4 separate regions of the Homo sapiens genome follow, and regions 1, 2 and 4 are each linked to region 3. Evidence: fine-mapped expression QTL. A gene starts in region 3. Each other region holds a variant in brackets. All regions are shown on one strand. Distances are from middle to middle.

Region 1 (5,000 bases), 86 kb after region 3:
TGAGTAAGTATTAGTCTCAGTTTAAGTCAATATTTAACTCAGTAGAGATGTTCATCACAGTTTAAGTCATTAATATCCCCACAATTTCATTTTTCATTAAGTTTGCGGAAGGCAAAACACATGTTCCCTGGCTCTTACTGTCAATTTAAATTTTCTTATTTTTTCAGAGACATTTTTGAGAATTCTTCCTGGTTATCTCTGTTAAAGTTGAACTAAAATGATAAAGACATTGAAATGTTAAGGAAGCTAATCACTTGACTATGTGTTTCGCTGGTTTTTGGTAAATATTGTATATAAAATACAGTGGGTAGCGAACTTAGAGTAATAAGTAAATGGCTTGAAGTTCTAATCACATGGCTAAGTGAAAGAATAAGCTGAGCATTATTCATTGAGAAAAGCATAAATCCACAAAGATAAGGAAATCTAAACTGGATTTGTAATTTATTATCTTACACATTTAAAGAGTCTGTGCCTAGCAATGGCTTTCAAAATGCTTTTGAACTGTGGTTATAACACAAGATTATATCTTACATTGTGCTCTGGTGAACACACATACAAATGTGTATTCAACTGAAAGAGTAGTTTCACAAAACAGCCTTCTGCCCTGCCAATGGGTGATGACACACTGTTTGAAGAATATTTTTATAGAGATAGAAATGAACCTAACTTTTGAATTAATTTGATCTGAATACCTGGAAATAGATAAACATCAGCACAATGCTAGTTTTTATAAATGTTCCAAATTATAGTTTCTTTGTATTTATAATTTTTGACAGTTCCTTATTTGTGTAGTGTCAGGCTAAATGGTGGAAGGGACCTGGAATTTATGTGACCGTAAGAAGAAATGTGAGTGAGTAGAACATCTCTTTATAAGGCATGCGTCACTGTAAGCATTGGAAAATGATGATAGTAATGGCTGAAGGAGACTTGCCGTGGTCAGCTTGTCTAACCCTGTGTCAGCAGAGAAAGACAAAGTCCAGGTCTTAGGAAGCTTTTCCCTTTCAGTATAAGAACTCCGTTTCAAGCTTGGCATGGTTAGTTTTTCTTTGTGTCACTTAGTACTTTGTTTTCAGTGTTACCTGAGCCATAGCTGTAGCAGATGCAAGACAGACCGATCCCTGTACTAGACATGAAGTGTTCATTAATAATCCAGAATCACGTCAGATCTGCTGTCATGGCGGCGGCATATACTTCAAGGAACTAACCTTCTTAGAGGAGTCGTGATAAGATCACTCCCAATGCATTATTTGATTAGGCTACATCTGAAAACAAGGGATATTTTATTATTTTACGTTGGAAAGATTAGTATATAGATTTAAAAAGTAGTTGCAGAAATCTACACAGGTTGTCAGTAATATTGTTAGCCATGTGACCTTATTTTAAGTGATGTCAGCTTTCTTCTTTTAGAACACAGGATGCTTCTGGGCCTGAGCTGATACTACCTGCAAGCATTGAATTCAGGGAAAGTTGTGAGTAATTTCAGATTTCATTGTCAATGAATTATTTCTTGATCCATTTTACTCCATCTGATTTTCACATTCGTTTTTATTCTTTTTTCCTTTTTTCTTTGTTTTTGAAATCTTTCCACAGCTGAAGATTCATTTTTGTCTGCCATTATAAATTATACTAATAGCTCTACAGTCCACTTTAAGTTGTCCCCTACATATGTATTATATATGGCATGCCGGTATGTATTGTCCAACCAGTACAGACCTGACATCAGCCCTACAGAGCGCACACATAAAGTCATTGCAGTCGTCAACAAGATGGTGAGCATGATGGAGGGTGTCATCCAGGTACGTTCCAGCCGGCCAGCCATGCTCCTCCAGTGATTGTGGTTGTAATTGCTAAGCCAGTGAATTCAGCTTCTTTAAGGCTTCTCATTTGGTTACAAGATTTTTTTCTAAAATAAAAGTTATGTAAATATTGTAGGAAAATGTATAACTTTAAAGAGTTGAAAGGAAATGCAAGCTTTTTTCTATTTTGTTTTCCCTGTAAAACTTCAGCATAAGTGAAGTTAACTTGTAGTAATAGTTGTGAGAAAGTGCTGAGACTGTTGTGGGCTTTTGTAGAATTTTTTCTGTAAATAATTTGTTGAGATGAAGTTCATATAATATTAACCATTTTGAAGTGAACAATTCAGTCGCATTTGGTGCATTCACAGTGTTGTGCAGCCACCACCCCTGTCGGTTCCAAAACGTCTCCATCACCTCAGAGCGATACCCCTCAAGTAGTTCCTGGGGTTTTTCT[C/T]TTCCCCCGTTCCCTGGTAACGCCTTCTTAGACTTTTTAAAAATGGTTCTCAAAAGTCACTTGCTCCTGTGTAATGAGCCTAGACGTTGGTAGTAATTGGGCTTTTTGATAGCACATGTGTAGGTGTAATGGACATTGTAACATACTTCTCACTTAAAATGAAATTCTGTCATAAACCTGTTTTCAAAATTTCAGAAGATAAAGGTATTTTGTTGGTAGAATGGTTTGACTCCTTTACGTACTTTCTGTCCCGATCTACAGTTGATAAAATTTTCATAGCAGTTTTTCATCTACAGATGATTTGAAGATTTAATCTTTAAAGTTCTTAAAAGTAAATGTACAGATTTTTTCAGTTTTTCTGAATCACTTGTCAATGTTGTTATTTAACTTAATAAAACTCTAGTTATATAATGTTAATAACATAGATAGATTGGTTGCTTTTCTCCTGGCAGGATCATTTGAGGGAAACTAAGATCTTTTAGTTCCTTCAGAATTGTTTTCAAAGGCCAGAATTTTTCAAGAAATGTTTCTTTTATATTTGAGTGATTAGCATGAGTTTGATAGGGTTATGCTTCTTTTACCCAAGTTAGGAAATAGGTAAAAAAGAAAGTCATTTTATTTGGATACCGTTTTGTTACTTTCATGTCATTATTTTATAAACAAACATGGATTTCCTTTTCAGTTGTCATTCAAAGCCATTGTCTGTCTTCTATCATGTTTGGACTTACTAAGCCTGTTTCGAGTTGTGAGACACCTATCATAAAACTACCCTTGATAGCCTTTTCCTTATTGATGTGAACTAGTCAGTGAAATCACCATTATCAAACAAGTCTTTTAAACTTCAGATTTAGGGTTAGTATCCAGTGGGGGGAATCTTAAAGTAGTGGAAAAGAACTGTGGTAGTGAATAATTTAAATTCTATTTTCAAAAAACAAAGAATTTGCTCCCTTTAGTATAGGTGTAAGTTATTTATACACTTTTAAATTCTCATCTTCTCAGCTTTTATTTTGATTGTTTCTTGGTCTTTCCTGTCTCTTCCATTCCTATTAATTAATCTAGAGGGATGGACTTTCACCTTATTAGGTACCTTTTAAGTAAGTAGTAAGCACACCATATCACTGAAAGATGTTCGTTCACAAGTCCTTCCATTGTAAATCTTTTAAAGAGATCAGTGTGTTCATGTGTGTTTATGGTAACATCATATTTATTGATAAACTCTAAAAATACAGTTAGTTATTGTGCCAGTGGTAAGAACATAAAACTAATCCTTTAGGTCGTATACTTCTAAAGGTGCTTCAGAACCATAAATGAAAATGTTATTTTGGGAATAACATAACTAAATGTCGTACCTTCATGTCGTACCTTCATATTAGTGTTTTGATTTTTTTAAACTATCATGATTGTTTACAAGTTTCTTTCTCTCGTTCTGCTTGATTTCCCCTCGTCTGTTTTTCTCCAGGAAGTAGACCAGGTTGACCAGGTAGGACATCTGCTGGGAGCTGATCCTAGCTGTGTTGCTTAGCCAAGTTTCTCATGCTGCTCCCATGTCAAATAAGTAATACAACAGCTGGACTGAACAGCTCATAACACTCATTCAGCAACTGAGACATGCAGTACTAAAACCCTTTTTGACTGTGCAACCTTTATCGGCATTTCATAATTTCTGCTTAATGCACTTCAGTGTGGATATGAAATGACAAAAGTTCTGTTTCTTCTCTTTATTATTTATCCTTGGTTCCTATTCTTTGGATCTCATCTGAGGTTGCCTGGCCTGCACATGTGGTCGGGAGAGGATGTGATAGATCAGTACTTGATACTGAGTTGCATGGTGTCCAAGCCAGTGACTACAAGTATCAGGGTGGCTGTGGGTAACCATGGATACATGTATGTATACTGCACAGACTACCAGATAATGCACGGTCTACAATTTGGTGTTATATTATTTGATATCTCCATTTCTCCGCTGATTCCATCTATAAATTGTAGCTAACTGAATCCATATGTCTATGTGCATGAATCCTAAGAAATAGTTGCAGTGGTTATTTACTTCCCATTGCTATGTATGCACCCAAATTATTTTGCAAATATCTGGTATCTGTGGTAAATACCTTGGTGAAATGGGAAGGTACTGGTCTATCTTCAGCAGCTTTTCAAGAGCATTCCTTTATATTTTTATTACTTTTGTTTATTCTCTGTTGCTTATGGAAGTGTGTTCTGTCTACAGAAACAGAAGAATATTGCAGGGGCACTTGCCTTCTGGATGGCAAATGCATCTGAACTTCTCAACTTCATTAAGCAAGACCGAGACCTTAGTCGGATCACACTGGATGCTCAAGATGTTTTAGCACATTTGGTTCAAATGGCATTTAAGTAAGGAACACATTTTTGAAGGCGGCACTACTCTAAATAATTAAGTCATTTGTTTTCTTATTCAGTTTTCCAAACTAATTTTAAGATTTATATTTACCTTGATTGAAGGTGAATATAAAGAAGCATACATTTTTGCAAAATGTATTAACTACCTATAGTTATATCCTTAATATAGTTATACTGAATTCAGTGAGCTATGTTTCAAGATTCCACATTTTTTTTTTAATGGAAAATATTTTTTAAGAGTCCAGATTGTTTCCCATGTGATAACATGTCTGACAATAGCTGTCTGTCATGCTAAGATTACTTAAATTGTCTATGTATTTTCAGATACTTGGTTCACTGTCTTCAATCAGAACTTAATAATTACATGCCAGCCT
Region 2 (6,352 bases), 120 kb before region 3:
CACTCTAAAATAACAATAAAATGTATAGTATAGCACGCATCATCATTATCAAGTAGAATGTGCTATGCACAACTGTACGAGCTATACGTTTATACAACTGGTAACGCAGTAGGTTTGCCTATACCAGCATCACCGCAAACGCGTGAGAAATGCATTGTGCAATGACATCACAAGGCAGTAGAAGTCTTCCAGCTCCACGATCATCTCAGAGGCCCACCGTTGTCTGTGCCATCCATCATGGACTGAAACGTTGCTAAGCGACTCACGACTACACAAAGAATAAGAGCCTCACTGCTTCCTTCTGTTGCCTGCTGGACCCCCCATTGAGTGTGTGGTCAAGGGCGCACTCCACGGTGAGTATGGGTCATCACTGCACAGTGTGTGTGTGGCCATGGACCCACTCCACGGTGTGTGTGTAACCATGGAGCCCTCCACAGGGCGTATGTGGCCAGTGAGGAAGGCAGGCATGGTTCAGCTCCTGAAGGCCTGGGCTTAGCTCTCAAGGAACCGGGCTTGGACACATTTGGCCTGTGGAGGGCTGACCCTCAGCTCCTGCCTCACACTGCCCCCATGCTCCACTGTCGGCAGCCTTTGAAGACATTTCAGGCCCCATGTCTGCCAATCTCCCAGGGCCATGTCCCAGCCACGCCAGCCTCCTCTGTTTCTGAGCAAACCAGGCTCCTCCAGCCTCAGGCCCTGAGTGTTCCACGCTGTTGGTAGCTGCCCCCACCCATGCGATTCCTCCCTTCTAGGATGGTCTCATGCAGGTGTCTCTGTCTCCCACACAGCCCAAATGCCCAGGGAGGGCTGAGCCTCTCTCAGTGGAGGGAGCCAGCCTCTGGAAGGCAGCCCCAGCTCCCGGCTCGGACGCTGACTCAGCCCTGGGAGGGGAGGGGGTTCCAGGGAAACTCCTCCCAGTTCGGGAGAGACACTTCCCAGCTCCGGAGAGACTCCTCCCAGCTCCGGAGAGACTCCTCCCAGTTCCGGAGAGACTCCTCCCAGCTCCAGAGAGACACCTCCCAGTTCCGGAGAGACTCCTCCCAGCTCCGGAGAGACTCCTCCCAGTTCCGGAGAGACTCCTCCCAGCTCCGGAGAGACTCCTCAAAGCTCTGGAGAGACTCCTCCCAGTTCTGGAGAGACACCTCCCAGTTCCGGAGCAACTCCTCCCAGTTCTGGAGAGACTCCTCCCAGTTCCGGAGAGACTCCTCCCAGTTCCGGAGAGACTCCTCCCAGTTCCGGAGAGACTCCTCCCAGCTCCGGAGAGACTCCTCCCAGTTCCGGAGAGACTCCTCCCAGTTCTGGAGAGACTCCTCCTCATTCCAGAGAGACTCCTCCCAGCTCCGGAGAGACTCCTCCCAGCTCCAGAGAGACTCCTCCCAGCTCCGGAGAGACACCTCCCAGTTCCAGAGAGACTCCTCCCAGCTCCAGGAACGTGTCTGAACGTGGTTGGCTTGTTTTCCTCTGGCCACTGCCAGGACCCTGGGCGAAGGTTTGGCCAGCAGTGGAAGACATAGCACAGTGGCCCCAGCAGACTCCACGGTCAGCACAGAGCTCCTGCCCGGGGTCAGCCTGAGGCCCACCCTCCTCTGGCAGCTGTCGCTGGACCTGCTGCTTCAGACCACTGTACTCCAAGCTCCTGGTTTTACTGCCAAATGTGCAGCACCAAGACAGCTTGAAATACTCTTTCACTGGTCTTGATGAGAATTCACCCTTCTTGAAGTGAATTCCTTCTCTTTCTTTTCACGTGGTAGGTCCAATGTCTCCTCCTCAGAGTGGCCTTCTCTGAATCCTCTTTATTTCTGTCCCTCACAGGGAAAGCCCTGTTTATTTTGTGTCTCCACCACCCATACAGAGAAGAAAGGTCTTGAGAGGGGTGTTTGGTAGGGCCTCTCTGACCACAGCATCCTCAGAGCCCCTGAACTAGAGCTGGCCCAGGAAGGACCAAACCAGAAATCTACTTTTTCTTCTTTGTTATTTCTTTATTTAATATTAATTGCAAACAAATTTGTAATTACAAGCATGCTAAAAAATCTTTTATTAAGAGGCACATACACACTTTGCAGCTTCCAGGTGTCTGAGTTTATTGGTTACATTTTTCAAAAGGCCATCACACGACCCTGGAGAGAAGCCCCCAGCTGCCGAGCAGCAGTAGGAGGAGGGCGAGGCCACAGGACGGCACGCGGGAGGCGCCAGCCGCAGAGAACACGCACAAGCCTGACGGCTGGAGCAGCACCACGTGCATTTCCTTAAAGAACGGAGGTGCAGATCCGGGCAGGGCGAGCTCAGGGTTGGTTAGTTCAGGAGCTCTGCGCGTCTCAGGCAGCCAGGACCCTGGGTCGAGAGAGGCTGCGATGGTCCCACCGTCACATTCAGATCTGACCATGGCCAGTGGAAGAGGAAGAGATGTGTCCTCTTGGGCTGTTTTCTCAGGGACTAGCAAACTTTGCTCGGGCCCTGTCCACCCACGTTCCCACAAATATCAATGCCAGAATTGGGCCACACAAGCCTCCCGTGCTGGTGCCTGCGGCTGGCGGAGACAGACACGCACCACAGCAGGTGAGCACCATGCGACTGGAGTTAAAATGAAAACACCTTTCTTCTAGAAGCATGAAGGAAACATTTCAAATGATGACGCTTTGTGCTGCTGATGGTGAGTGAAACAGAACTCTCCATCCATGGGATGTGGGCACACGACCCAGCCCCAGCTTCCTAGAAGGCAGCGGGATGGGTACAGGACGGGGACGCTGCCACCTGCCTTTGGCCCAGGACTCCCATCTCTAAGAATACATCTTAAGGAAAGAAGTAAAGTGCATATGAGCAAAAATATTATGTACTGATATGTTCATTGCATTAATATTTTAAAAATTCAAATATCCAAAATTGGAATGCTTATACAAATTTTGAACTATACAAATAACCCAATATTTACATGCTATTACACTGATATTTAAGAAGAGTGTTCATTAAAATGAAAAACAAACTTTTACCATTAAATGAAAAAAATTACATACCGTATAATGTCTACACTTGAAAAAGGAGTATATAGAAAAATAAAGGCACCCCTGCCAAGTGTTAATAATAGTTTTCTCTGCAGGGTAGGCTTCCGGGTGATTTTCTGTATTTACACATTTTTAGCCCTCTAAATATTCTATAGTGAGGGCGTCTGTAGTTGCTATTGTTTCCATTATCAGTTATCTATTGCCACAGTGGTAACCACAAGAAACAACCACAAACCTCTGTGCACGTAACCACCACCACTGGC[G/A]CCTGCTCACCGTCGAGGTGGTGTTGGGGCAGGGCTGCTCTCTGAGCTGGGGCGGAGGAGAATGAATGCATCTGCTCAGCCGGCTCGGCTGGGTGGCTTCACCTAGCTTTGCCGAGCCCCCTCCCACGCCAGCTGGGCCCCGCAGAGACTCTCAGGGCCCCAGGCAGATGCTCGTGACAGTACAGGGCTTCGTGGGAACTGCAAGAGCTCACGGCGTCTTAGGCCTCGGCTGGGCAAGGCCCCCTTCCTACCGGCCAAAGCAAGTCAGAGGCTGCGCGGCCTCCAAGGGTGGGAAAGGAGCCCCTGTTGATGAGAGGAGCTGCGGTTCGTTGCAGCGACGGGACAGCAGGATGAGGACCTACAGCCAGCTTTACTTCAGTCCACGATTGAGACCCGGCTGCTGTTCTCAACAGCTGTTCCCACCATAGCCTGAAAACCCAGATATTTGCTGCCTCAGTTTCCATGGCCAGTATGGTAGTCACGTGGCCAGCTCTGGCCAATGAGACCAAGGGTAAGTCCAGAGGGGTGAGATTCTGGGAATCACTCTTCCTTCATGATTTAAAAAAACAACAACAAAGGAAGAAAAGAGGGAGAGGAAGAAGCTCACAAGACACCCCCAGCCCCACCACAGAAGCCTCCCTGCACCCGGCCTTCCCATGTGGCCCCGTGAGGGAGGCCATAAGGCCCAGATGCAGGTGTGAACACACACCTGAAGAAGCCAGGAGAACAGCCCCGATGTGTCTCCTCCAGGGTTTCAGGGAAGAAATCAATGCCCACAGTTGAAGCCACGGTGAGCATGCCTCAGTGACTGGATTCCCGGTGCCTCTCCAGACATAGCACAGCCCGCATGTCCATCCAGGAAAGGCGTAACTAAAGAAGAAAGCATTTAAGCAAGAAACAGATAAGTCAAAAGTCTTACAAAAATGAGAAGGCTCTAAATGATTACAGCATAACACAGAAGCTGCTTGGCAGTTTAGAATTTCACTCCCAGACAAAACTATAGTCAACTGAAGGGTATGACCTGGCTGACATGTTGTCCTGACTATTTCATGCTCTAAGTTTGCAGAAAGTGACTGTACATCACCCAGACATCTTACACAGCCCCTGGTCTGTGGAGTTTCCCGTGAAGACACAGGTGGCCTGGCATCAGGGACACACCAAGAAAGTCGGCAGCAGGGAAGGGGGCTTCGTGTCTTTCTCTCACAGGAAAAAAGGAGCAAAACAACTGTCTGAAACTGAAATGAACACGGTGCCTTAAGGTCACTTTATTGTCAAGCAGAAAATGGTCTCAAGAATTGCAAAGGGAAAGGAAGGTAGGATTTGCTGAGCGGAGTATCACATCAAGAAACCCAGTCATCCGGGGAAAGTCGGCACTTCCCGAATTCCCGCGTAATCAGTCACTGAAGAGACGGCATGATGAGCGAACTCTGGTCTATCCGAGGCCTGGGAAGCTGGCTCAGAAGCAGCAGCTGGAGAAACACACGTATGACAGCTGTGGCATTTTGCTAAATATGTTGTCACGATGCCCCATGGCTACAAGGAAAGAGCTTAGCATGTGATGGGGAGGGTGGAAGACACCCCACAGTGCTCAGGGGGGAGGCTGAGCCTCTGCAGCCAGGTAGACCTCTTGACGGTGCAGGGCCAAGCCTCAGCTGCTTACGTCCAGACAAAGCAGGGGGAGGGTGCCTGTGTTGGCCTTGGCCAAATGAGCATGTTTTATCTGAAACAGAATCCATAGGGTGGAGTTGCTTGACACTGGCCTCCTTCCTGAATACCCTCCAGGCGAGAGGCTGCATCTGGGCTGGTCCAGGGCCGCTGGACACCCACAGTGAGCCCAGCGAGGCAGCAGGAGCGCCAGTAGGACTCAGCGTCGATCTCCCGGATTCAGAGATGACCAAGAATCGTGAAACATCTACGTATTCACCAAGGACGCAAACAAGGCTGCAGCCATCTCAAGGAAGCTCCTGGAAATCTTCCTGCAGCCTAGAAAAATGTTACCTGAAGCACTGCAGGAAGATCCTGGGGCCAAGACAGGATTCCCGCTCCACTGAGACCCCAGCCCTGCAGGCTCCCATCCACACCCGCCCTAGGCTGCCCTGGACCCATGGCGGGCCCAGGCACACCCCACAGCCGCAGGCACCCCACAGCACGGCGCCGCATCCAGGGAGTGCCTTCCTAGGCCAACATCCTTGGGTGACACCTGTTGAATTTCGTTTTGATGATTCTTTCCTTTCAGGGTAATAACTTCTACACCTTTTTCTTGGCGTGTTTCTGTAGCCCAGGTCCAGGAATAGATTAAGCACGAGAGCGTGTGGCACCTGCTCAGCAGCCTGTGTATAGCTTATGCTTTCTCTACTGTCCCACAGGAACCGTGTGCACCTCTGCAGGATGCAGACCCACAGGGGTGGGGACAGCAGGAAGAGCAAGAGAGGCACAGAAGGGAAGGCCAGTGGAGGCCCTCCAAGCCGTCCCAAGGCAGTCTCCATTGTCGCATTCAGGCTGGGAAGGGAGGGACAGTGGACAAGGAAGGGGTCCTGGGAATAGCAGCCAACAGGGGAGGAAGGAAAGGATGCAAAACTTCCAACAGAGCTGCTCAGTAGGGGAAAGACGTCTTTCCTCACCCATCCTAGGTTCACGGCTGAAGCTTCTATCACAACAGACAGATGGACAAAGGAAAGTGCACATTTTACTTCATCTAAGTTTTATGTGACACAAGAGCCTTCATAAGGAAATGCCAACCCGAAGAAACAGGCGAGCCTGAGTGTGTTTCACAGGGGGTTTGGTGAAAATGGGGCGGTGGAAGGAAAGAACAGAAGGAAGCAGCATGATCTACTGGCAGCAAAGCGGGGGGACCTGGCAGGCCTGTGTGGCCCTTCAGCTCCCGAGCTAAGGACACTCCACTCCACATGATGGGGTGGCCACTTCTCACAGGCGGGGCTCCTAGACCAGCTTCCCGGGAGGGCCAGAGAGTCCTGCCTGACTTTTATGACCCAAGTCAGGAGAGGAGGAAGGAAGGTGAGTGTGGCTTCCTGCTTCTGCACTTTTCTCAAATAGCTTCAGCTGAAAGTATCGGGGGGTGAACCTCATCAC
Region 3 (6,253 bases):
TAAGTGCAAAGTTTAATCAGAAATTCAAAAATATTATTACTTTCTGTCCTCATATTTATTCCTATTATGTGATACTTCTTTTTTTAAGAGACAGTCTTGCTCTGTTGTCCTCTATTACCTGGTACTTTTAGGTTTTACGTAGATTTTGGTTTTAGATAGGAGATACTTAAAAATATTAGTATACCAGTGCTGATTGAAATAGAAGCTGTAAAACTTTTTGAACAGTGCAACTAACAATAATATACGTTTAAAAGGAAAACTAAAATTATAAAGTAGAAACTTGAATTTTCAAAAACCGACTTATAGATTAAAAAGGTCTTTTTCAACCTCGCCCAGTGCAGGTTTGTTTAGCTTCAGTCCAGTCCTTTATCTTGCATTTCAGTCTCACCATGTATAAAATGGAATTAATAACAGAAAAGCCCATTCTTTTATTTATTTATTTATTTTGAGACAGAGTCTTGCTCTGTCGCCCAGGCTGGAGTGCAGTGGCGCGGTCTCAGCTCACTGCAACCTCCGCCTCCCGGGTTCACGTCATTCTCCTGCCTCAGCCTCCTGAGTAGCTGGAACTACAGGCACCCACAACCATGCCCGGCTAATTTTTTTTTTTTTTGTATTTTTAGTAGAGACGGGGTTTCACCGTGTTAGCCAGGATGGTCTTGATCTCCTGACCTCGTGATCTGCCCGCCTTGGCCTCCCAAAATGCTGGGATTACAGGTGTGAGCCACTGCGCCCGGCCCTATTTTGTTTTTTACAGCATTTCTTGGATATCATTTAAGTACAATTTTTAGATGTACCAGAATCCAGTGGTGCAATGAGAATAGAAGATGGTAGCATGTTTACCTTTTATTGTTCTAGGTGGTTATCAAAATTAACATATGGCTCAGAATATCATCCTGGAGTCTTGACCGATGACAGCGAAATTATTTGTCAGCCTGGAAATTTTCATGTCCTAAACATATACCAGTTATGGGAGTGTTCATGATTTAAGAATCATAGGTATTCTATGAATTTTTGGCTGCTCTTAAACATTTGTCAATAAACTAATGTTGGTTGGGACCTACAATAAAGTGTAGTTTAGATATTGATATACCACTCATACATAATACAAATGGGGACTTTTAATGACAGTCAGAAAAACGAGAATGATTCACATTAATTTCGAGCCTTCTATGTGTCCTGCATCACCCAGTAGGTATTTCACATATGCTATATGTTTTTTATTACAAAAATAACACTGCAGAGAGCCCATAACTGTTTTCCAGGAATCCTGAATTTTCTCTTTAGTGATGCTACACATACTTACTTTGGACATCAGCAATCTAACTGCCGGCTTTGCAAACTCATTCTTCAAGAGGCAAGTCATTCTTGGTAACAGCGTCCTCAGGAATGAAGCTCCTGCAGTTGAGGTTCAGTGAACGCTGCGTCAGGGATCTGCGCAGCACGTGTGGAACCCAATGAGAGTCCTTGCTGTGCAGGCACCGGGATGCTCACATAGTAAAAACTCGAGTCCATCGGGAAGCCCAGGAACTGAAAGGCATAAAGAAACCGAGTGCTAGAACACGAAGATGACATTTAGACACAGATGCTTTTCTGCAAGTCACCACACTTTAATTTTAAGAAAGGAGACTAGCGATCTATTGAATAATTCATTCCCTCATGGCACTGGTTCAACACCCCAGGCTCCTCTGCTGAGAAGCCTCCTTATGTAGCTGTACTGGACAAGTGCGGTAGAAAAGACAGAACCCAGTGGGGATGACAGAATTCTTTAATTGTCTGCAAAAGAGGAAATCCAGTTGGTGGAGAGAAAAATTATTTCCACATTGGAAAAAAAAGTAATGACAAAAATAAAAAGGCTTTGTCAAATATAGTTCACTCTTCTCATTACTTGCCTTAGTGTTTCAAAGATAAACGCTTTTTGTTACAACACATCACAGATAACGCAACTTCGCCTGACTGAACCCGGCGTGGGGAGACTGCAGAGATGGCGCTCTGCAGCCAAAACAAAGGGTGGGGGAGGGGAGGGGCAATTACAAAAAAGACACCTTATGAAAAAAAATCCCTACAATTCACAAAGCTTGCTACTGAAATTAATTTCAGGTTTCCACGTCCACGGGGACACGTACAGGATTTAAAATGACGATCACGTGGCATCTCTCAGGGCCAAATGGGGCGCATCAAAGCTTCCCCTCGACGTTTATTAACTCTGCAGTCCGTTCTCTACGTCTGCGAAGAATTGGCAGATAACGATGTGTCTGAGAGAAGAGGCGTTTTCTAAGGAGACACACAAAGGGAGTGGGACCCTCCAACCTCACTCTGTGAGAGGAACACCGCACAGCAGTGTGGGGGCTCGAACACCCCAAGAGCGGCAGAGCGCGGTTCAGAAAACATGACCCTTGAAATGCACACAAAGCCTAACAACGTGTCCTCCGCGGAAGAAAACAGCTTGAAAAGGTCGGCTTTGAAGTGACCCAGCGGAAAGGAATCACCCTGGAAGAAACACGCAGCAGCCCCGGGGCAATGCGCGGGCAGGAGGAGCAGCGAGCGCGGGGAGCGCAGGGCCCTTCGGAGAGGGCGCTCCACCGGCCCTGCGCTCCGTACCTGTGCCGCCACGCCCACCGGTCCCCTGCTGAGCCTAGCACCGCCCATTTAGACCCAGCACCACCCGTCCGGACCGAACCTAGCACCGCCCGTCCGGACCCAGCAGCGCCCATTTGGATACTGCACCGCCCGTCCAGACCCAGAACCGCCCGTCCGGACCCAGTACCACCCATCGGACCCAGCGCCGCCCATTTAGACCCAGCACCGCCAGTCCGAACCGAACCTAGCACCGCCCATGGGACCCATCGCCCGTTCGGACCCAGCACCGCCCGTCCAGATCCAGCACTGCACCCCCATTTGGATCCAGCACCGCCCGTCCAGACCCGGACCCGCCAGTCCGGACCGAACCCAGCACCGCCCATCGGATCCGGCGCCGCCCATTTAGACCTAGCACCACCCATCCGAACCGAACCTAGCACCGCCCATCGGACCCACCGCCCGTCTGGACCCAGCACCGCCCGTCTGGAACCAGCACCGCCCGTCCACAGATCCATCACCACCCATTTGGACCCAGCACCGCCCGTCCCCGCCCGTCCGGACCGAACGCAGCACCGCCCATCGGACCCAGCAGCGCCCATTTAGACCTAGCACCGCCCGTCCGAACCGAACATAGCACCGCCCATCGGACCCATCACCGCCCGTCCAGATCCAGCACCGCCCATTTGGATCCAGCACCGCCCGTCCGGACTCTGCACCGCGCGTCCGGACCCAACACAGCACCACCCATCGGACCCAGCACTGCCCATTTAGATCCAGCAGCGCGCGTCCGAACCGAACCTAGCACCGCTGGTCGGGAAGGAACCCGGTACCGCCGGTTGGGACCCACCACCGCCAGTCCAGACGGAACCCTAGCACCGCGCGGGGCCCGCCCTCCGACACCTCCCTCCCTGGCGGCCGCGGCAGCAGCACCTAGTGGAGCGGCCCGGAGGTGCGGCGGCGCCGCGCGGGGCGGCGGCGCGCACGGCGGGCGGCGGCGCGCACGGCGGCGGGCGGGGCGCGGGCGGGTGCGGGCGGCGGGCGGCGGGCGCCGGGCGCACACCGGCCGGCGGGGCTGAGGCGGCGCGGCGCGGCGCGGACTGAGCCCCAGGCGGAGGCCAAGTCGGAGGACGCGGCGCGGCCGCGGAGGCGGAGGCAGCCGCGGAGGCGGAGGCGGCCGGCGGGGGGTGGCGAGGGGCGCCGGGCCCCCGCGGACCTGTCGTCCTCGGCCCGTCCTCCGGCCCCGGCCCCGCGCGGCTGAGGAGGCGCGGCCAGGACCATGTCGGCGGGCGGCCGTGACGAGGAGCGGCGGAAGCTGGCCGACATCATCCACCACTGGAACGCCAACCGGCTGGACCTGTTCGAGATCAGCCAGCCGACCGAGGTGAGCACCGCCGGGCGCGGGGCCTGCGCGACCCCCGCCCGCTGCGCCGCGCCCCGCCCCTCCCCCCCGCCGCCGCCCGCCAGCCGCGGACCCGCCCTCCTTTCCCCCTCCCCCCTCCGCCCCTTCTCTCCCCTCCCCCTCCCCCAGGCCCACCGCGGGCCCCGGCGTCCCCCGCAGCCCCCGTCCCCCTGCCGCGGTGTATCCCGGGGTCGCGCGGGCCGAGCGGGGGCTGGCGGGGCGCGGCAGTCACCTGTTCCCCTCTCCGGCCGCTCACCTGGTGGCTCACCTGGGCCGCCGCCCCCACCCCCGCGAGCGCGGCGCGGCCCCGGCCTCATCCCCGGCGGCGCGGGGGGCGCGGCGGCGCGCGGGGCCGGCGCCCTCCACCTGCAGCCCGGTTGTGGCTCGCGGCGCCCCTTCGCCGTGGCCGGGATGGAGCCTGTGACGCGCGCTGTGCTTCGGGTTCATAAACTTGCAGGCTGCCAGCTGGGAGGGGAAAGTCAGTATCACAAAGTTCGGGAGGTGCGGGCTGCCTGATGGCACAGGCCCGGAGTCGGACGCCTCCGAGGAAAGGCGCGCCTTCTCCACCTTCGGGGCCGCGAGGAAGGGCCCTCTGCGGCGGCCTCTGCCCGGAGGGAGGCGCCGGCCCCAGGCTGGCTCCCTGAGAGGAGGAGGAAATCACGCTCGCTCCTGGCCTGGTAACAATGGGGGTTGTTTATAGCAAAGCTGCTGAAAGCGTTCCGAGCAGCTTTTAAAAAAATGTTTGAGTCCAAGTCCACTAGGAAGGGCTCCGTGGAGAGGGGAGGGAGGTGAAGGGTCGGGGAGCAACCCTGTAAATCGCTCCGCAAGGGTCGGTTCCGCGCTCTGTTCATTCGGTGGCTGCACAGACTTTACCAGCATAAAAAAATTTCACTCAATATTTGTGCCCGTTTAGGAAATCATTTTAATAGCGTCTATTTTTGATTTGTTGTAATAGGTAATTTATAGTTAATACTTGCTATAAAATACTAGCTCCTAGGCAACAAAACATGTTTGGCAGATTTGAACATTCTTACGAAATGTAATCCTTTTATCATTAAATTCCACTTTATGTTTTTGAGAGAATTTGACTATTGCTTCTCTGATTTCTTGAGTTTTTGCCAGTCATGGGAAGGACTCTATTTCTTCTGTTTTCATCTGTACCTGTGACTGCACTTGACGTGGGTAGCTAGCCATTTGTCTTAATACTGAGTTGAATACTGACACACGCCATTAGGCTCAGGTTGTCAATTTGAGCATAGATGTTATGTTAAGTTACTCCTGATTCATTCATCTTCTGTAATGATTTTATGAGTTAGGTTCTAGTAAGGGAGTTAGTACTATGTACTTAAGTGTTCGTTCATAGACTAGTGTATCTTTAGAAAGGTGACATGATAATTTAGTTTCAGGATTATGTTTTCTTTTAGAATAATGAATTCATTTTTCTTTTTATCACAAGGTAAAAAAAGTTGACCATAAAACATTTTCTTGGTGTGTAGCTTTTTTTTTTTGTTTGAATGGATTTTTTTTTTTTTTGAGAGATTTCTCAAGTCTGGTGGAAAGGAATCTTTTTTCGGTTTAATAAAGAGAATTCAGCTTTTTGGGATTTTGAATTGAGTTAGCATTAAAAAAATCTCAAATCAGAAACATTATAGTTCATTGATTTAATTAAATTCTATTTTAAGCACTCAATTGAAACTTTTTATTTCTTAGTGATATGACTAGTTTTTAAAATTGGCCTGTCATTTGGAAAGCTGTTTTTTCAGTTATACTGTAGGTGAAAGTTTGCTTTGTACATACACTGAAGCAAAACAAGAATTGAAGGACTTGGAAAAAAAGATGATATATTTCATTTCCTAATTTTTCTCCCTACTTATATCTGAACATTTCCATTTTTAGAAATTATTCTTCAGAATTGTATTAGAAGCCTTTCATAATGAAATGAATGGTTTTTAAGAATGTCCATATATTGGTTTTTTAGCTTTTTTACTATATAGTGGCTGGCTCACATTTCTATTTTGTTTTCTCGAGAACTTTCCTGTACTATTAAATTTATTCTGGTCCTAGTTAAGCTTTGCATTTAACATATTGTATCTTTTATTATGATGTAGGTAAACTTAATATGAGTAATTCTCTCAGCCAGTATTTCAAGGCCAACAGTTTCAATTTGCTTTGTCTAAGCTCGTGTGAATTTTTTTTTTTAACCATCTAATGATTATTTTTACTCTATTTGGCCATCACAAGTCCAATTTTTTAGTTTTCTGCAAGAACAGAAGCATT
Region 4 (6,352 bases), 220 kb after region 3:
GTTTGAGACCAGCCTGGCCCACATGGTGAAACCCCGTCTCTTCTAAAAACACAAAAATTAGCTGAGCATGGTGGCAGCTGTAATCCCAGCTACTCAGGTGGCTGAGGCACGAGAATCACTTGAACCTGGGAGACTGAGGTTGCAGTGAGCCGAGATCGCATCACTGCACTCCAGCCTGGGCGACAGAGCGAGACTCAGTCTCAAATAAATAAATAATAAAAATAAAAATATAATGGAGAAATAAAAAGTTTTTTTCTGTGTATATACACATAAGTATATTTCAATTCGTAAAACTTTCAAAACAACTACATCTGAACACACAGCGAAGTAAATGAGTTTCGGTATAAGAAGGAAGACAATATTCAATTTATGTATATTCGACAATTTAAAAATAAGGGCCAAGTGACTGTATCTGTGTGTGTGTGTGCACGTACATGCATGTAAAATCTCCAGGAATGTGGCCGCTACAAAAAGCAGACAGACACACAGACATGGAATTGTCACAAGTGTCCCATTTGTGACTCACATGTCACCAGCAGTATAGCAATGTGATATAATTTTGTACATGGTGAAAACCTCTTGGTAATGTTACAAAGTTTCAGCTTCTCTTGGTTTACACAACTGTTGCATTCCTGACACATAATGTACATTAAAACTGCAGAAATAATCCTTCCTGATTTTATGGAGAGCAGTGTGAGGTTTCAGGCCTGGATCACCAAATGCAGGATTTCCACCTGTGAATGTCTGACGGGGGCTAAAGCCACGTGGCCCCCGGGACAGTATTTGCTGGGTGGGAGTGTCCTGTGCCTTATGGGGACCTGGCGTCCTTGGTGCCTGTCTGCTCAATGTCACTTGTGTCCCCTCATCATTGTGATGACTTGAATGACCCCACAGGTTCTGAGATGCTCCCTCAGTGCCCAAAATAAAATCAAACTTCTCTTTAGGGTTGGCCCTTAGGCAGGCAGATGCCCCTGGCTCAGGAAGCCCCTCACCGGCTTGCTGAGGTGCGAAGTTCCTTTAGTAGGACAGAGACACCAACGCACAAATGATGGACTCAGGAGGTGGCAGCTCTGGTGAGATGGAAGCTTCTCTGTGGAGCCCGCACTGAACAGCAGTGCCAAGCAACAACTGCCGCCAGGCCCTGCCGTCCTCCTTCTGACCTTGAAGGGCCCGAGCTGCTGCCATAGCGTGACCGAAGGGACAGCCTGGCTGAGCCGCGTGACACTCGACAAGCCTTCTTTGTGTGTTTGATGAAGTTCCTCTCTGAGCAAGGCCGGCGTTGTGATAACCAAGCTGCCTTTGTAGAGGATGCGTGGACGCCTCGCCCCACAGCTGCGTGGGGCCCACAGTGGTGCCCCGAGACGGGCACCGTGTGAAAATGGCAGAGCTTCCCTCTGGGGAAGTGTTGGACCGGCTCTGGCCAGCCTCTACGCGGGATGGCAGAGGCGCGAGTGACTCAGGAACCTGCCAGTCACAGCCTAGAGCAAGGGCGTCTACAGAGACTGGGAGTTGGGGCAGTGGGCGTGGGGGGCGCTTGGGCCCCAGGCACCGGACCCCACTGCCTGCCACCCTCGACGCCCCCACGCTGCAGACTGGAACCCTCTGCCCCATCACAGGGCGTGCAGCTGAGTCCTCGCTTCCCAGGTTTTCGTCTGCCTCTCACTCCCAACTCCTCATTTCCTAGAAGGAAGCCTGGGCCCAGTCTTCACCCTGGTCCACTTGGCCACACCCAGAGTGCCAGGGTTTCAGAGCAAACCAGCCCAGTCTCCAGGGTGTGGGGCTGCAGGCACTCACCCCACCGCTGGCCACCACCAGTGATTTCAGTGGCCCATCACCGTGGTGCTGACACGCTGCCCCTAAGAAGGGAGAGGGAGGGACGGACCCAGGAAACATACAGAAAAAAAACCCAAAACTAGTCAGTGACTAAAACTCAAAGACGTCCCATCAATTAACAGCTCTGCTCTGGGGTTACTATCTTCATGTTCATTAGCTTCTTCCTCTTGGCTCAGGGCCTCTGAAGGTGTTTAGGATCAACCCATTTGAAAAGCAAGGACGCTGAGGCTGTGGAAGTCCACGTACTTACTGACTCGCAGCGCCTGTGAGTGGGCGGGAAGGAGCGTCTGCCCCTCAGTCGTGGTCCGGCTCCTTCTCTCACAGACGTGGACCTTTGGAGGGCAGTCCCAGCGCCACGGAGAAATGCATCTCCAGAAACACTCGTGGCTTCCTCAAACTGAGCACAACCAGACCTCCCCAGCGCTGACCTACGGCACAATTGTTCATGCACGAGAGCCGCCTTATGGGGTGAGTGCGTGACTCTGGTGCGAGGTTTATGTTCCCAGGGCTGACATGTCTGGGAGCTTCACAGCTGGACGAGGCATATTTGGAGGGGCGCCTTGAACCTGGACAGCACCCCCTCCTTGCCTCCCTCAGGCCGTTTGGCCACAGAACCTGTGACATGGGCAGGCTCAGGAGAGGAGAGGAGGAAGGGAAGGAGCCCAGGCCCCGAGGAGGGAAGATTGCCGGGGGCCAGGGTGGGGGTGGGGTGGGGTGGGGGCCCAGGGCCCAGGGCTGGGGCAGCTCTGGGTGCCAAATGCGGTTTCGTCCAGAGGACACTGCAAGGCTGGAATGAAACACCCTGTCCTCTTCAGCTTGTAGCGGGTCAGAGGCCGCTGGTTTTGAAGAGATTTGCCAGTGATCTGTGGGAGGAAACACTCAGCAGAGGTTTAGGTGGCACGTGGAGACTGTGCGGGGAATACAGCCCAAATGGGGAGGACAGAAGACACCACAGCCACCCAGGGTGTGAGAGCTGCGACAGGCGCCTGTTAGAGCGGAACCACAGGGGCCCGGCCCCATCTCGGGGTCCGGGGTGGCTTCCCTGCGGGGGCGGCCTCTGTGCAGAGGCCTGAAGGGTCCACAGTGGCAAAGGGGGAATGACAAAGTGTCTGCCTGTGCCGGACCGAGTGATCTGTACTATAATTACCCTGTGAGGGGCGCACGCTGCCGTCCTAGAGCGTCACAGACACCAGCCCCCGGGCCTGTTGGTACTCGCCGGAGGTCCCTGCGTGCCCAGAGTCCCGCCCTGGCCATCGTTTAGTGTGAGGCAGGAGGGGGCCAGATATGGGGGGGACGCCTGGCTCCCCCAGATCTCTCTTGCCTGCTCTTTCCTCCGCAGGCTGCCTGTGCCCCTCCCCCGTAGCCAGGAACAGGCCCTGGGGAGTGGTGGGAGGCCGTGCAGTGAGGCTTGCGGCCCTGGATGCTCCCTCAGGACTGTCTGGGACCAGGCTCGTCTCACAATCCGAATTAACTGCAGACCTCACTTCGAGAACAGCCTGGCCCAGCCCTGATACTCGGGGAAAGAGCAGCGGTCGGAGGAGGCAGGAGGAGCGCACGGAGGGCAAGCCGGGGGCCCATGTGTGGCTGGGGCAGCCGTGGCCTCCTCAGCACAGTGTGAGCCCAGCAGCCTTGCCGTGGCCAAGGCCCTGGGCCTGGGAACTTGTAATCCAGTCGCTGACTTTGCTTAGTTAGCAGAAATGGAAGACACCTCATTTGTGGAGACCGAGGTGGTGGAATGTTGACCCTGGGGGTGTTGCTGTGGGAGGCC[A/G]GTGAGCTGTTAGCCCAGTGGGCAGGACCTGGGTGACCGACGCCCTGGGGGTCTCATAACTCCCTGGACCTTCTCCTTTCTTGGTGGAGCTTGGCCAAAACCCACGGATATTTTACATCTGTTTCCCTGAAGTGCTAGGGACGTTCTGTAGTTTCAGCCATGCTCCTCGGGCAAGCCCCGGGATGGGGTGGGGGGGGCCAGAACAATGTGGGGTGGGCGTGGCCGGACGCCAGCTGCCCCTCAGCAGGGGCTTCAGCTCCATCACAGCCATGTGGACTGTGGCTCAGCCTGGGTGGACAAGGAGGTGTATACAGTTAGCACAGCCAGAGCAAGCCAGCCCTGCCCACTGAGGTGCACAGAGCACCAATCCGCTGGCCCTCCCTCCCTCTTTCACCTGTTCTGTGCCCATTTATTGGCTGCCTCCTGTACCGGGGTCTTGCTTTGGCACCGAGGAAACTGCAGTCAAGGCCGGAGGCTCCTGCCTTGAAGATCCCAAGACCGGGATGGAGACTGATGAGCCGGATGTGTCCCAGCGTGTAATGCAGGGTGGGCTGAGTGCGCCCCCCGACGTCTGTGTGGGAATCCTCACCAGCAAGGCCATGGTGTTAGGAGGGGGTGCCTGTGGGAGCCGGTGAGGTTGTGAGGATGGAGGCTCACGGGTGGGATTAGTGCCTTTGTAAGGGGGGCCCTGGGAGCTCGCAAGCCCCTTCCGCCCTGAGAAGACGTAGCGGCCAGGGAGGGGGCCTGGACCAGGAATGGAACTGGCCGGCACCTCGATCCTGGACTTCCAGCCTCCAGAATCATGAGGAGTGGGCAGAGTGAGGCCACACGGCCTATGAAGATCTGTTGTAGTGACCAGAGGGAAGACACAGTGCAGTGGACACGCCGGGGCTGGTGTGTGTCCTGCAGCCTCTCTGGGAGCCCAGGGCACCTGCTCCCAGGAATCACATGTGAGAAGCAAAACACAAGGACAGGCTGCGGGGAGGCGGCCCCGGACCCCCACTGGATGCCTCACTTCACACACCTGCCACCGAGGGGGACAGTGCCGGCCTCCCAGACCTGCACCCCAGCCCACAGGTGGGCACTCCACCCATGCACTGTCAGGGCTGCCAAAGCCTCATGCCCTCCCACCACCTTCTGCTGGGCAGCCCCTTCCTCAGAGAACAAAGAGCATTTTGGTTTTTTTTTTGAGACAGGGTCTTGCTGCATCGCCCAGGCTGCAGTGCAGTGGCATGATCTCAGCTCACTGCAGCCTTGACCTCCTGGGCTCAAGTGATTCTCCCACCTCAGCCTCCCGAGTAGCTGGGACCACAGGCGCCACCATGCCCGGCTAATTTTATTTCTATATTTTTTGTAGAGATGGGGTTTTGCCAGGTTGCCCAGGCTGGTCTCAAACTCCTGGTCTCAAGTGATCCGCTCACCTTGGCCTCCCAAAGTGTTGAGATTACAGGTGTGAAGCACCGTGCCTGGCCATAAAGAGCATCCCGGAGGCTCCTGAGGCGCGTCCTCCTCCCAGCCCACCTCCTGCAGAGGCCCCCATTGGAGGCCGGCCTGTTCCCACTGTTACGTGTTCCCATGTCCGCTCAGGAGGGAGCCTGGCCCGCACCCCACAGGGCACACTCCTGCATCTGGCTCTGAGGACATGCTTCTTCCTCTTCTCCCACTGCGCCAGGCCCTGCCGCCGCCCCAACAGCGTGGATGTCCAGGGCTGTGGGCGGACAATGGCCCTGATGTCCAAGGACAGACAACAGAGGGTGCGGCGAACAGGTCCCCACTTGGTGACGGTGACGTCCAGTTCCTGCTGCGTGCACTGGTTTGTGACAGCAGCAGTGGCTGAATGGAGAGAACCACACCCCTGCCAGCGGGAGGCCTGGCTGGTCACCTGAGCACAGATGCCAGGGCAGAGCCAGGAGGGGACTCAGGATGAACACTGCCACCCTGGGGCGGCTGGAGAACCAGGCATGGGCCGGCGGCGAGCCGGGAGGGAGCCCCAGCCTGTGCCCAGTGGCCCGGGGGCCTCATCCGTAGCCAGGGGATGTGAGCAGGGAATGGCAGCCGCTGTGTGACCCAAGGTTCTGAGATCAGAGGAGTCCTCACCCTGGGCCCCGTTTTGAGGCCTGAAACTTCCATGGTTAGATGGTGATGGGGAGCCCTCCTTCAGGGCAAAAGATAAGATTACAAATTCTAAAGTATGAAAATAAATCTAAATACAGAAACATTAAAAAACCACCACATCACAAAGTTTAAAAAGCTGAAAAACACAGTAACACAATATTTGGTGACGGTTTTATTGGTGAGCTGCCTGTGATTAATAAACAATTAACCCGCGCCATTTTCCCCACTGCGTGTTCACCTCTTCACGCGCCTTTGTAGAATACCAGCTTTCTCCCGGCAGGGCTGCCCCGGATTTGTTTTCTAACCTTGGCACCTGGAAGGCAGCCTCCCCATCACAGCTCGCCGCCGTGAGAACGGTCATGGGCCCGGCTGCAGGACCGGCATTGCCTACCACGTCCAGCCTCCCACTGCCAGCTCTGTTTCTCTTCCAGTCCCCACACCTCCCAGGTTGGGAGTACATGTCCGCCTCACCAGGTGACCTCTGGCCCTGGCCATCCTGTCCTGAGACTCCCTGCTGCTCCTACAGGTAGAGACGACATGACTGGGAACCCCGAAACGTCTCCCAGCAGACCGAGCCAAGTGTGTGTCCAGTTCAGCCTCCCCTACGCGGGCCCCACACACCCACAGGGCCCTCAG

What was found.
Region 1: its variant is fine-mapped to the expression of AFDN in whole blood (TOPMed, PIP above 0.99).
Region 2: its variant is fine-mapped to the expression of AFDN in whole blood (INTERVAL, PIP above 0.99). The same link has a PIP of 0.9 or more in blood mononuclear cells and monocytes.
Region 4: its variant is fine-mapped to the expression of AFDN in lung (TOPMed, PIP above 0.99).

The regions. Positions count from the first base shown.
Region 1 is chr6:167,909,694-167,914,693 of GRCh38, forward strand. AFDN (afadin, adherens junction formation factor) reads left to right here. Exons shown (of 34, transcript NM_001386888.1): 14 at 1,408-1,469; 15 at 1,591-1,796; 16 at 3,710-3,730; 17 at 4,475-4,620; 18 at 4,951-5,000. Among named protein-coding and RNA genes, the nearest start is that of HGC6.3, 68 kb to the right of the region's middle. The variant C/T (reference allele first, on the strand shown) is at 2,251.
Region 2 is chr6:167,703,181-167,709,532 of GRCh38, forward strand. No RefSeq gene overlaps it. Among named protein-coding and RNA genes, the nearest start is that of LINC02487, 10 kb to the left of the region's middle. RefSeq lists enhancers at 103-644, 4,442-5,163, 5,164-5,884. The variant G/A (reference allele first, on the strand shown) is at 3,263.
Region 3 is chr6:167,823,280-167,829,532 of GRCh38, forward strand. It overlaps AFDN (afadin, adherens junction formation factor), which reads left to right and starts at 3,632. Exons shown (of 34, transcript NM_001386888.1): 1 at 3,632-3,958. The coding sequence starts at 3,854. AFDN-DT (AFDN divergent transcript) reads right to left here and starts at 3,517. Exons shown (of 2, transcript NR_027906.1): 1 at 2,124-3,517; 2 at 611-1,527. RefSeq lists silencers at 2,601-2,670, 3,585-3,784 and enhancers at 3,255-3,324, 3,355-3,434.
Region 4 is chr6:168,047,220-168,053,571 of GRCh38, forward strand. It overlaps FRMD1 (FERM domain containing 1), which reads right to left. Exons shown (of 11, transcript NM_024919.6): 11 at 5,876-6,352. Among named protein-coding and RNA genes, the nearest start is that of FRMD1, 29 kb to the right of the region's middle. RefSeq lists an enhancer at 1,198-1,697. The variant A/G (reference allele first, on the strand shown) is at 3,602.